2 separate regions of the Homo sapiens genome follow, and region 1 is linked to region 2. Evidence: fine-mapped expression QTL. A gene starts in region 2. The other region holds a variant in brackets. All regions are shown on one strand. Distances are between the middles of the regions.

Evidence for each region.
Region 1: its variant is fine-mapped to the expression of HES1 in whole blood (INTERVAL, PIP 0.98).

What each region holds. Positions count from the first base shown.
Region 1 is chr3:194,109,055-194,114,424 of GRCh38, forward strand. The region is part of intron 5 of LOC102724877; the gene reads left to right. Among named protein-coding and RNA genes, the nearest start is that of HES1, 24 kb to the right of the region's middle. The variant C/T (reference allele first, on the strand shown) is at 2,739.
Region 2 is chr3:194,133,145-194,138,514 of GRCh38, forward strand. It overlaps HES1 (hes family bHLH transcription factor 1), which reads left to right and starts at 3,004. Exons shown (of 4, transcript NM_005524.4): 1 at 3,004-3,344; 2 at 3,473-3,568; 3 at 3,817-3,904; 4 at 4,539-5,370. The coding sequence starts at 3,237. The coding sequence ends at 5,089. RefSeq lists silencers at 1,082-1,361, 1,432-1,971, 4,698-4,897 and enhancers at 2,962-4,161, 2,971-3,130, 4,928-5,117.

The DNA.
Region 1 (5,370 bases), 24 kb before region 2:
TTGTCACCTGTCAGGGGGGCCAGCTAGCTAGTTGCTGGGTTGAGTGGTTAATCCAATGATTTGTATAGCTGGCTCACTAAGGAAATCATAGGTACTCAATATATAGCTACTGAACAATTCAATGAATGATTGAATTAGTTATCATTTAACCTATTGGCTGGGAAGTGCTGAAAGAATTCAAACCCTCTTAATATGCTTCAAGTCCAGCCTGCACTCTCTACCTTCAGGGATCCCTGCTGGGCCACTTGGCCCTTGCTCCTTTCTCCAGCAGAAATCATCCCCCCTGTACCCCTTTCTCCACTCCCACATTCCCTTATGGCCTGGTACAGACCACTGCTGTATTATCTGAGTCATTAGCATAGCCCTGATGCCATTTGTTTATTTGTCTGACTTCCTCACTTGACTCTGAGCTCTCTGCAACAAGGTTTTGCATGTTGTTCAATTTAAAAAATCTGCCTCTAAGGTTATAAGCAGAGCCCAGGACATATCTATTCAACATGACATTTCATAGGGGTTCAGCAAATGTTTGCAAACAAACAAAAAAGGAATGCAGGACAAGGATATTTTGAGTACCAATGAGCCATCCAGCCCTGAGCTAGGTTCAGTCTCTGAAGGCATGAAGAAGGAACCACAGGAGAATTAACATAACTCTCACCACGCTTCATTGCAATCCATCGTTTACTTGTTTCTTTTCACCTGTAGATTATAAATGTCATGAAGACAGGGGCTGTGTCTGTCTTATTCACCTAACTAACCACAGCAACTCACACCATGCCATGGAAGGCACTCAAAAATTTTATGTTGAAGCGATAAGTGGATGGCAAAGGCACCCCAATTTTCAGGATTGATTTCCTCCAACTGTAATTAGTCACTGAGCAAAACAGCCCAGGCTGGAGTGCAGTGGTAGGATTATGGCTCACTGCAGCCTCGACATCCTGGACTTAAGTGATCCTCTCATCACAACCTCTGGAATAGCTGCAACTACAGGTGTGTACCACCACGACTAGTTAATTTATATTTATTTATTTATTTATTTATTTATTTATTTATTTATTTATTGAGAGAGACAGAGATCTCATTTTGTTGCTCAGATTGGTCTCAAACTCCTAGCTTCAAGCAATCCTCCTACCTCGGCCTCCCAAAGAGCTAGGTGTGAGCCACTGTGCCTGGCCCTCTTGCTTTCTTATTGAGAGCCAAGTATAGTTGGAGACTGGTGGAGGTTTTCTCTCCCCAGCAGAAGGTTACCTGGAGACTTTGGCAAGAGCCACAGCAGTTCCTAAAAGGAAAAGAAACCTCAAAGGAGAATGTTAATCTCCCCGATCAGGTAAATGAGCAACAACAGGTAACAAATAATTCACCCCAGTGATCCCTCAGAATTGCATGCCTGTCTTTAAATCTCCTTATACAAGCTGACTTCCTTAGAAAAAGCAGGTAAAATCAGAAAGCAAGAAAGCAAGGAAGGAAGGGAAGGGAAGGGGAAGGGAAGGGAAGGGAAGGGAAGGGAACGGAAGGGAAGGGAAGGGGAGGGAAGGGAAGGGGAGGGAAGGGTACGGAAGGGAAGGGAAGGGAAAAGAGAGAGTCCTTAAATTCTTGAGACAAATTGCAGTGGTAGGATTATGGCTCTATCTTGACATTTTGCAAAACTACATCCGAGCCTATCCTTTGCTCAGCTCTACGTCAGCCAAAGCCTCAGTTATAAATAAATTCACAAATATACGGAACGCTGGGCCTCGCCCCAAGGCCAACGTTCCTCGTTCATGTGTGCATTCACCAGCTCCAGCTCTCCCTGGAAACATCCTTTTCTATGTAACAGCCTAAATCATCCTAAAGAGGACATTCTCCAACATTAGCATACCTAACAATCAACACGGAGATTTCCAGGACCTGTTCCAGAAACACGGATTCAGTAGGTTTAGGGTGGAAGTTTGGAATCTGCCTTTTAACCAACTCCCTGCTATGGACTGAATTGTTTCACCCCAAAATTCATATATTGAAGCCCTCACCCCTAATGTGATGGCATTTGAAGATGGGGCCTTTGGGAGGTCATTATGTTTAGATGAGGTCGTGAGGAAGGGAGCCCCATGATGGATGGGATTAGTGCCCTCATAAGAAGACATGCCAGAGAGCTCTCTCTACTCTCAAGTACCCAGGAAAGGCCATAACAAGACACAGCCAGAAGACAGCTATCTGCAAGCCAGGAAGCGCCCTCACCAAACAGACACGGACCCTGCTAGCACCTTGCTCTTGGGCATTCAGCCTCCAGAATTGGGAGACGATCAATTCCTGCTGTGAAGGTATTTTATTAAGGCAGCCAAAGCTGACTGAGATACTTCCCCGATCACTGTGATGTCCAGTGCCGAGGGCCTATGCTTTGAAAATCAATATTCTAGTCTTAGGCCAAAACTCTCCTCCCTGCTTCCCCAGCCACTCCTTGAGCTTTCTTCTTCCTCATGGCCCTCTCGGCCATCTGGACAGGCTTCTTCCTGGATACAAGTCACATGAATGTCACTGACCTGTGACTTTGTCTTTGTTTCCTGAGTGCATCACACAGTACATGGCCTACGGCAGGCATTCAGAAAATATTGATTTCATGAATGAATAGGTGAATGAATGAGTGAGCAAATGAATGAATTTATATCACATAGAATAATTAACTTCCCTTTTAGTATCTCCCTAATCCTTCCAACTCTAACTTGAGGAAGCTATGACTTGCTTTCAAGATCATTTTCCAGGCCTGG[C/T]GCGGTGGCTCACGCCTGTAATCCCAGCACTTTGGGAGGCTGAGGCAGGTGGATCACCTGAAGTCAGGAGTTCAAGACCAGCCTTGCCAACATGGTGAAACCCTGTCTCTACTTAAAATACAAAAATTTGGCAGGCTTGGTGGCCGGCGCCTGTAATCCCAGCTACTTGGGAGGCTGAGGCAGGAGAATTGCTTGGACCCACAAGGCGGAGGTTGCAGTGAGCTGAGATCACACCACTGCACTCCAGCCTGGGCAACAAGAGCAAAACTCTGTCTGAAAAATGAATAAATAAATAAATAATAGGATTATTTTGCATCCATTCTATTGTTTTGTGGGAATCTTTCACAGTCATTGCCTGGGAATCCAGTGATGAAAAGTGGCCCACAAATACAATCTAATGGAGGCCCTCAGGTTATTCACTAAAGCTCAGAGAAGATCATTTTCCAATCAGAGACATCCACAAGTGGAATGGTGCTAGAATCTTCCCTCCCCTGCAGGAAAGCCCTGGTCAGCCAGGTCAGATGTGGGCAGATGGTTTGCTCTTCTCCACCGAGTACTGAGTGAAGCCTTGGGCTGGAAATCCAGGTAGGGAGGTTAAGGACAAATTTGGAATTAAAACACAATAAGCCCCTTCATTCCTTCCCCATTCACATCCTCCATTCTTAAGGCTGGGAAAAAAAAAAAAAAAAAAGACCCCTTACTTCCTCATGCAAGACTGCCCCCAGGCTTAATCAGAGCCTTAACTGCTGTCTTTGGCTGTGTTGTAAGCACAGTGACAATGATCAGGTTAGGTGTTTAGAACAGTATGATGTCAGTCGGGCTTGTGATGAAAGAGTCGCTGACAGACAGTGCAAGCCAACACCATGAGAACAGCTCAGGCTATGAGGTCATTCAGTCCAACAGGTAGGCAGGTTTGTTTTCTTAGCCCTGACATTCGATGCCCTGCCGGTTATTGAATAACCAGAAATGAGGCGACTCCTACAAATTCCTGGATCTCCATGGGGATGGAGAAGGAGGGGCTGTGCTTCGTCTGCCAAACTGTGGGTTTGATTAAGGGCACCGGAGGAGAAGCCAGAACTGGAAACCTGTCTCTAGGAAGATGGGTAGATGAAAGAAAATGCAAGAAAGATATTCAGGGGCAAGTGGGATCATTTCTGCAGAGGTGAAAAATGATTCTGCATCCCATTTAATCCAATCATGCCCTGCTCCTAGAGAGGAAAGTGAAACACCCTCAGACTGAACACGTGGTCAAACTCAGATGAATGAAGCAGCCAGTTCACAGCAAATTTACTTTTCAAAAGACTGGGAAAGAAGGGAATTGGGGGAACTTTTTTTCTGTTTGTTGAGGAGGGAGATTATTTATTAACTTGTTTATTTTACTACCCAATATATACCACACATAGGACCCCATGTGCAAAGATTTCACAGCTTTAAGAACATGAAATATTTTAATGAAAGACTGTAGTTAACATTTCAAAAATGTAAGTTCAAGCCAAGCCTACTTTCCTTTGAACATTTCATAGAAGTTAAAGGAAACGGGGGTTGTAGGTTTTTTTTTTTTTTTTTTTACGTATTTATTTATTTAGAAACAGAGTCTCACCTTGTCATCCAGGCTGGAGTGCAGTGGTGCCATCTCAGCTCACTGCAGCCTCGACCTCCCAGGCTCAAGCGATCCTCCTGCCTCAGCCCCCCAAGTAGCCGGGACTGTAAGTGTGCACCGGTACACCTGGCTAATTTTTTGTATTTTTCATAGAGACAGGGTTTCGCCGTGTTGCTCATGCTGATCTCCAACTCCTGAGCTCAAGCAATCCGCTCACCTCGGCCTCCCAAAGTGCTGGGATTACAGGTGTGAGGCACTGCACCCAACCTTTAGATTTTGTTTTTAAGCATAATATTGGAGGTGGAGTGATCTATTAGTTTCCCGGGGGGGCTGCCATAACAAAGTACCGTAAATTTGGTGGCTTAAAAGACCAAGAATGGGCCAGGCACGGTGGCTCAGGCCTGTAATCCCAGCACTTTGGGAGGCCGAGGTGGGTGGATCATCTCAGGTCGAGAGTTCGAGAACAACCTGGCCAGCATAGAGAAAACTCGTCTTTACTAAAAATACAAAAATTAGCCGGGTGTAGTGGTGGGTGCCAGTAATCCCAGCCACTTAGGGGGCTAAGGCAGGAGAATTGCTTGAAGCCGGCAGGCGGAGGTTGCAGTGAGCTGAGATCGAGGCATTGCACTCCAGCCTGGGCGACAGAGCGAGACTCGGTCTAAAAAAAAAAAAAAAAAAAGACCAAAAATGTATTAATGTATTGTGTCACAGTTCTGGAGGCCAGCAGTCTAAAATCAAGGAGTCAGCAGGACCATGCTTCCTCCGAACCCTGTAAGGGAAACTCCTTCCTTGCCTCTTCCTAGTCTCTGGTGGTTGCCAGCAATTCACGGCATTCTTCGGCCAGCAGCTATATCACTCCAACTTCTGCCTCCATCGTCACGTGGAGTTCTCACCTTGAGTGTTTCTGTCTCTGTGTCTCATCTATTTTTATGACACCACTCATACTGGATTAAGGACCCACCCTATTCCATTATGACCTCATCTTTATTAATTACATCTGCTATGGCCCTATTTCCAAATAACGTCAATGCT
Region 2 (5,370 bases):
TAAGGTCCAAAGTCCTTCAGCAAGATGTTTAAGGAGCTTGTGACATGGCCTCAAGCTGCCTCTTCCAGTCCCTCACATTCCCTAGGCTCCAGACCATGTTCCCTGAATAAAGTCTTCAAGTTCCAGGATCTTGGCCTTTAATACCATGGGTACCTGCATCCTCTCCAGCCCACGACTAAGCACATTCCCAATGCCCCAATCCTACCTATTTTTCAAGGTACACAGGCCAATCCCTCCAGGAAGTTTTCCAAGGTACCCCAACTTAAAAGTAACTTAATTCTCCTGAAACTCCATAGCATTTTACCTCTATCCAGACATACGTCTCTCTTGAACCTACGACTTCCCAGAGGAATTTACTGGGCCATCCGTAGATGTCAGCTGTACACGTTTATATGTATCTCTAGACTGTTAGCTTCCAGAGAGCAATAACGGTCTTACTCACTGCTGTAAACCCAGGTAGACCAGCAATACTGTTATCCATACAAGTATGGTTTCATATTTTGTTTCTGTCCTCCTGATCTCTCAAGCCACCACCTAACTCAGAAAAGAAAGGAAAAATAAAGGAATGTCCAGTCATCAATCAGAAAATCAGCGTCTGTCTGCCCCCGCAGTTTACTGTCAACTTCTAGCAGGCCGCCACTGTATCTCTCACCGTGGAAATCCCAGGGTTTAACACAGTGTCTGACACTGCGCGTGTGTTCCACAATGAAAGAGAGAGGGGGGCTTGCCCAAGGTCACCCAGAGTCAGGAACCACTGAATCTCATCCGGGACGAGATCTGGCGAAATCATTGACAACGTTATCTCAGTGGGGAGCTGGGAGGCCGGAAGGAATGAAGTGTCTGAGAACCGTGCGCCAGGCCTCCGGGACGCGGGAAGGGCTGAGGGGGCGGGAGGCCACATCAAACAAGACGCTGGGCTCCCGGGCTGCCCGGAGCCGCGAGCCGAGCTCCCAGGCGGCGGGAAGGGCGGAGGGGGGGTGGGGGCACGGGGGCCGGCGACCCGGGCAGGCGGGAGGGAGGCGGAGGAGGCGGCCGGCCGGCCCAGGCAGTGCGCGCCGCCCGCCCGGCTCGGCAAATCCCCCAGGGAGGCCGCCGCCAGAGCCCTGGCGCTCCCGGCCCGGCGCCCGCCACGTGGCACCCGGCGGCGGCGGCGGCGACTCCTCCCGGCGCGCGGCCCGGCCAGCAGGCAGCACGCAGCCGCCCGCGCCGCCCGCCTCCTCCCGGGCGCCCGCCGGCGGCCTCCCGGGCGTAGTGAGGGGGAGCGGCCCGGCCGCCCGGGACCCGGGGAAGGGGCGGGCGGCGCGAAGCCGCTTTAACCGCAGTCGCCGAGCGGAGGCAGGAGGCTGACCCGGCCGCTTCCTAAGTGCGGTCAGGCATCCCGTGACCGCGGCGGGCGCCCAGGGCCCCGCGGGGAGAGGGCGGGGGCGAGGAGCAAACTTGGAGGCCCCCACCTCGCCCCCGGGCTGTTGCGAATGCGGCTTTCGGCCGAGTGAAAACCCCAAGCCCGAAAGTGAGGGTGGGGAGGCGGGGGTTGGAAGAATTCCCCACTCTCCACCCCGGGTGTGCGCTCCCCGCCGGGAAGAGCTGACCTTGGCCTGGGGAGGCGGGGGTGGGGAGAGAGGGTAAGCGCCGGGGCTCGGCTCCCAGCCCGCCGCCCCCTCGGATTCCTGGCCCGGCGGGGCCGGAGGAGGGGGCCCCGGACACACACACACACACACCCCCCACACGCAGCGCGCGCCAATGAGCCCGGGCCAGGCGCAGGGGGCGGGGTTTTCCCAGGCTCGAGCACAGCAGCTGCTATTTACCTTCTTGGCTTCTCCCGGGGACCAGGAACCGGCCCCCGCTCTCCGCCGCCCGTCGCCGCCCCCCGCCTCCCTGCCCCCGGGGCGCGCGCACACACACTCACTCACACACGCACGCACACACACATCCTCCCGGCCCGGCCGCAGCCGCGGCGGCAATAAAACATCCTGGCACGTGCTCCGGCTCCAGGCGCGCCCACGCCGGCCGGCTGATGTCAAACTGCAGCTCGGCTGGTGTAGCTCTTAAAGGGCCCGCGGGCGCCGGGGGCCGAGGCCGCCCGCGGGGCGAGGAGGGAGAGGCTGCTTCCTTGCCCGCCACCTCAACGCGCCGCAGAACCTAAAGCCTACGGATGAAAAGGGAAAGGGTGGTGAAGGAGGGCGCGAGTCCCTGAGTCATTGCCCTCGGAGCCCCCCTTGTTCATTTTTTCATTTGAAATACCGTTTCCTTCCACCCAGTTGGAAATTATTCTGATTGTTTCCTGGGGAAGCCCGGGGTCTAAGGCCCCAAATCCAAACGAGGAATTTCTGAAAGACGGGGTGGGGGTGGGATTCAAGAACTACCTTGCTCCGAAAAACCTGCATTTGTGAGGTAGAAGGCAATTTTTCCTTTTTCTGCATGGAAACAGGAAAATTTTTTTGGCCCTTTTCCTTTACCATCTACTTTCACCCTCCTGAATGTAAAGTCTGAGCGGGAACTTTAGATGTGTCGGTAACTCACATTCTTACACCCGTCCCCCCCTCCCCCCGCCCCCTTTTAACCACTGCTGTTTTTTTCTTTATTGTTTATACCTTTAAAAAAAATATGTTTCAAATGAACTTACTACAGTCAAAGCAGCTCTGTTACATATGAGAGAGGGCATAAAGAGCAAAGACCCTGGCTCCAAAAGAAATAGACAAGATCAAGACCAAAGCGGAAAGAAAAAAAAAATCTCTAAACCAAAGCCCAGAGGGAGAGTAGCAAAGGGTTAAAATCCTTTTGATTGACGTTGTAGCCTCCGGTGCCCTGGGCTCAGGCGCGCGCCATTGGCCGCCAGACCTTGTGCCTGGCGGCCAATGGGGGGGCGCGGTCCACGAGCGGTGCCGCGTGTCTCCTCCTCCCATTGGCTGAAAGTTACTGTGGGAAAGAAAGTTTGGGAAGTTTCACACGAGCCGTTCGCGTGCAGTCCCAGATATATATAGAGGCCGCCAGGGCCTAGGGATCACACAGGATCCGGAGCTGGTGCTGATAACAGCGGAATCCCCCGTCTACCTCTCTCCTTGGTCCTGGAACAGCGCTACTGATCACCAAGTAGCCACAAAATATAATAAACCCTCAGCACTTGCTCAGTAGTTTTGTGAAAGTCTCAAGTAAAAGAGACACAAACAAAAAATTCTTTTTCGTGAAGAACTCCAAAAATAAAATTCTCTAGAGATAAAAAAAAAAAAAAAAGGAAAATGCCAGCTGATATAATGGAGAAAAATTCCTCGTCCCCGGTGGCTGCTACCCCAGCCAGTGTCAACACGACACCGGATAAACCAAAGACAGCATCTGAGCACAGAAAGGTAAGGGCGGTACCTGTATCTCTTTGCAGCCCCTCAAAATTAAGTAGGGGTTGGGGGGCTTCTTTCTGTCTTGAAACCCCGGGATGGCAGATTCCATGGGAACACAGAACTCTTTTTTTTATTTGCAGTCATCAAAGCCTATTATGGAGAAAAGACGAAGAGCAAGAATAAATGAAAGTCTGAGCCAGCTGAAAACACTGATTTTGGATGCTCTGAAGAAAGATGTAAGTGGGGAAATGCTGCTCGCTCTTTTAATTAAAAAACAAACACTTTCTCAGCTACTAAGAGTGAAACCCCCCGCCCTGCGGGGTCTGGCACTCGCTGGTACTGCGTTCTCCCAGGCGGGAGGGCCCGGCCTTATTCGCTGGGGTCCAGAGATAATGCTTGCGCTCCGTGGCCGGGAGGAGGGACCCCCAGCACTCTGAAGCAGCTGACACGGGGCTCACTTTCCTTTCTTGCCTACTCTATGCAGAGCTCGCGGCATTCCAAGCTGGAGAAGGCGGACATTCTGGAAATGACAGTGAAGCACCTCCGGAACCTGCAGCGGGCGCAGATGACGGGTGAGGGCGGCTCGCCGCGTCCCCCTGTGCGGGCGTCCCGCTCGCCTCGCGGTGATTTCTTCCAGACTTCCGCCCGTGGTTGTGAGAGGCATTCAGCTACATTTTACTGCCTTGGCTCACTCTTGCGTTCCCACGGTCTGGGGCTTATTTATAGCCACAACTCCAAGTTGTTACTGTTCCGGAAAGGGAGGGAAAGAGGTTGCAGCCGCGAGGGTGGCGGGCGCCGGGTAGGGGCGAAAGGACTTAGGACTGTGGCGGTTTGGAACTGCGTGGAGCCTGGGGGTCACTGGTTTAGCACTCCTTCCCGTTGCAGAAGGGGAAATGAGGCTTGGATGATGGATTGGGAGGCATTGTCCAAGGTCACATCGCGCGCGGGGGTGGGGGTGACAGATCTGGGGCTGAGATAGGTTTAAATGCAGCTACAGGGAATCGGGAAGGAGTGGCTCGGCTTTTGGCAGCAACGCTAGTGTGGAGAGGTGGCTGGTTTTTTCTAAACCCATCTCACCCTCCCTGCCGGAGGCAGTTTCACGGGCGCATGGTCAGGGAGGCGCGCCACAGGGACCTCCCAGGGCGGAGGCAGTGGCCACGGGGCCAGGGCCGTTCGGTGACCCGTCTGTCTCTTTCTGGCCCGCAGCTGCGCTGAGCACAGACCCAAGTGTGCTGGGGAAGTACCGAGCCGGCTTCAGCGAGTGCATGAACGAGGTGACCCGCTTCCTGTCCACGTGCGAGGGCGTTAATACCGAGGTGCGCACTCGGCTGCTCGGCCACCTGGCCAACTGCATGACCCAGATCAATGCCATGACCTACCCCGGGCAGCCGCACCCCGCCTTGCAGGCGCCGCCACCGCCCCCACCGGGACCCGGCGGCCCCCAGCACGCGCCGTTCGCGCCGCCGCCGCCACTCGTGCCCATCCCCGGGGGCGCGGCGCCCCCTCCCGGCGGCGCCCCCTGCAAGCTGGGCAGCCAGGCTGGAGAGGCGGCTAAGGTGTTTGGAGGCTTCCAGGTGGTACCGGCTCCCGATGGCCAGTTTGCTTTCCTCATTCCCAACGGGGCCTTCGCGCACAGCGGCCCTGTCATCCCCGTCTACACCAGCAACAGCGGCACCTCCGTGGGCCCCAACGCAGTGTCACCTTCCAGCGGCCCCTCGCTTACGGCGGACTCCATGTGGAGGCCGTGGCGGAACTGAGGGGGCTCAGGCCACCCCTCCTCCTAAACTCCCCAACCCACCTCTCTTCCCTCCGGACTCTAAACAGGAACTTGAATACTGGGAGAGAAGAGGACTTTTTTGATTAAGTGGTTACTTTGTGTTTTTTTAATTTCTAAGAAGTTACTTTTTGTAGAGAGAGCTGTATTAAGTGACTGACCATGCACTATATTTGTATATATTTTATATGTTCATATTGGATTGCGCCTTTGTATTATAAAAGCTCAGATGACATTTCGTTTTTTACACGAGATTTCTTTTTT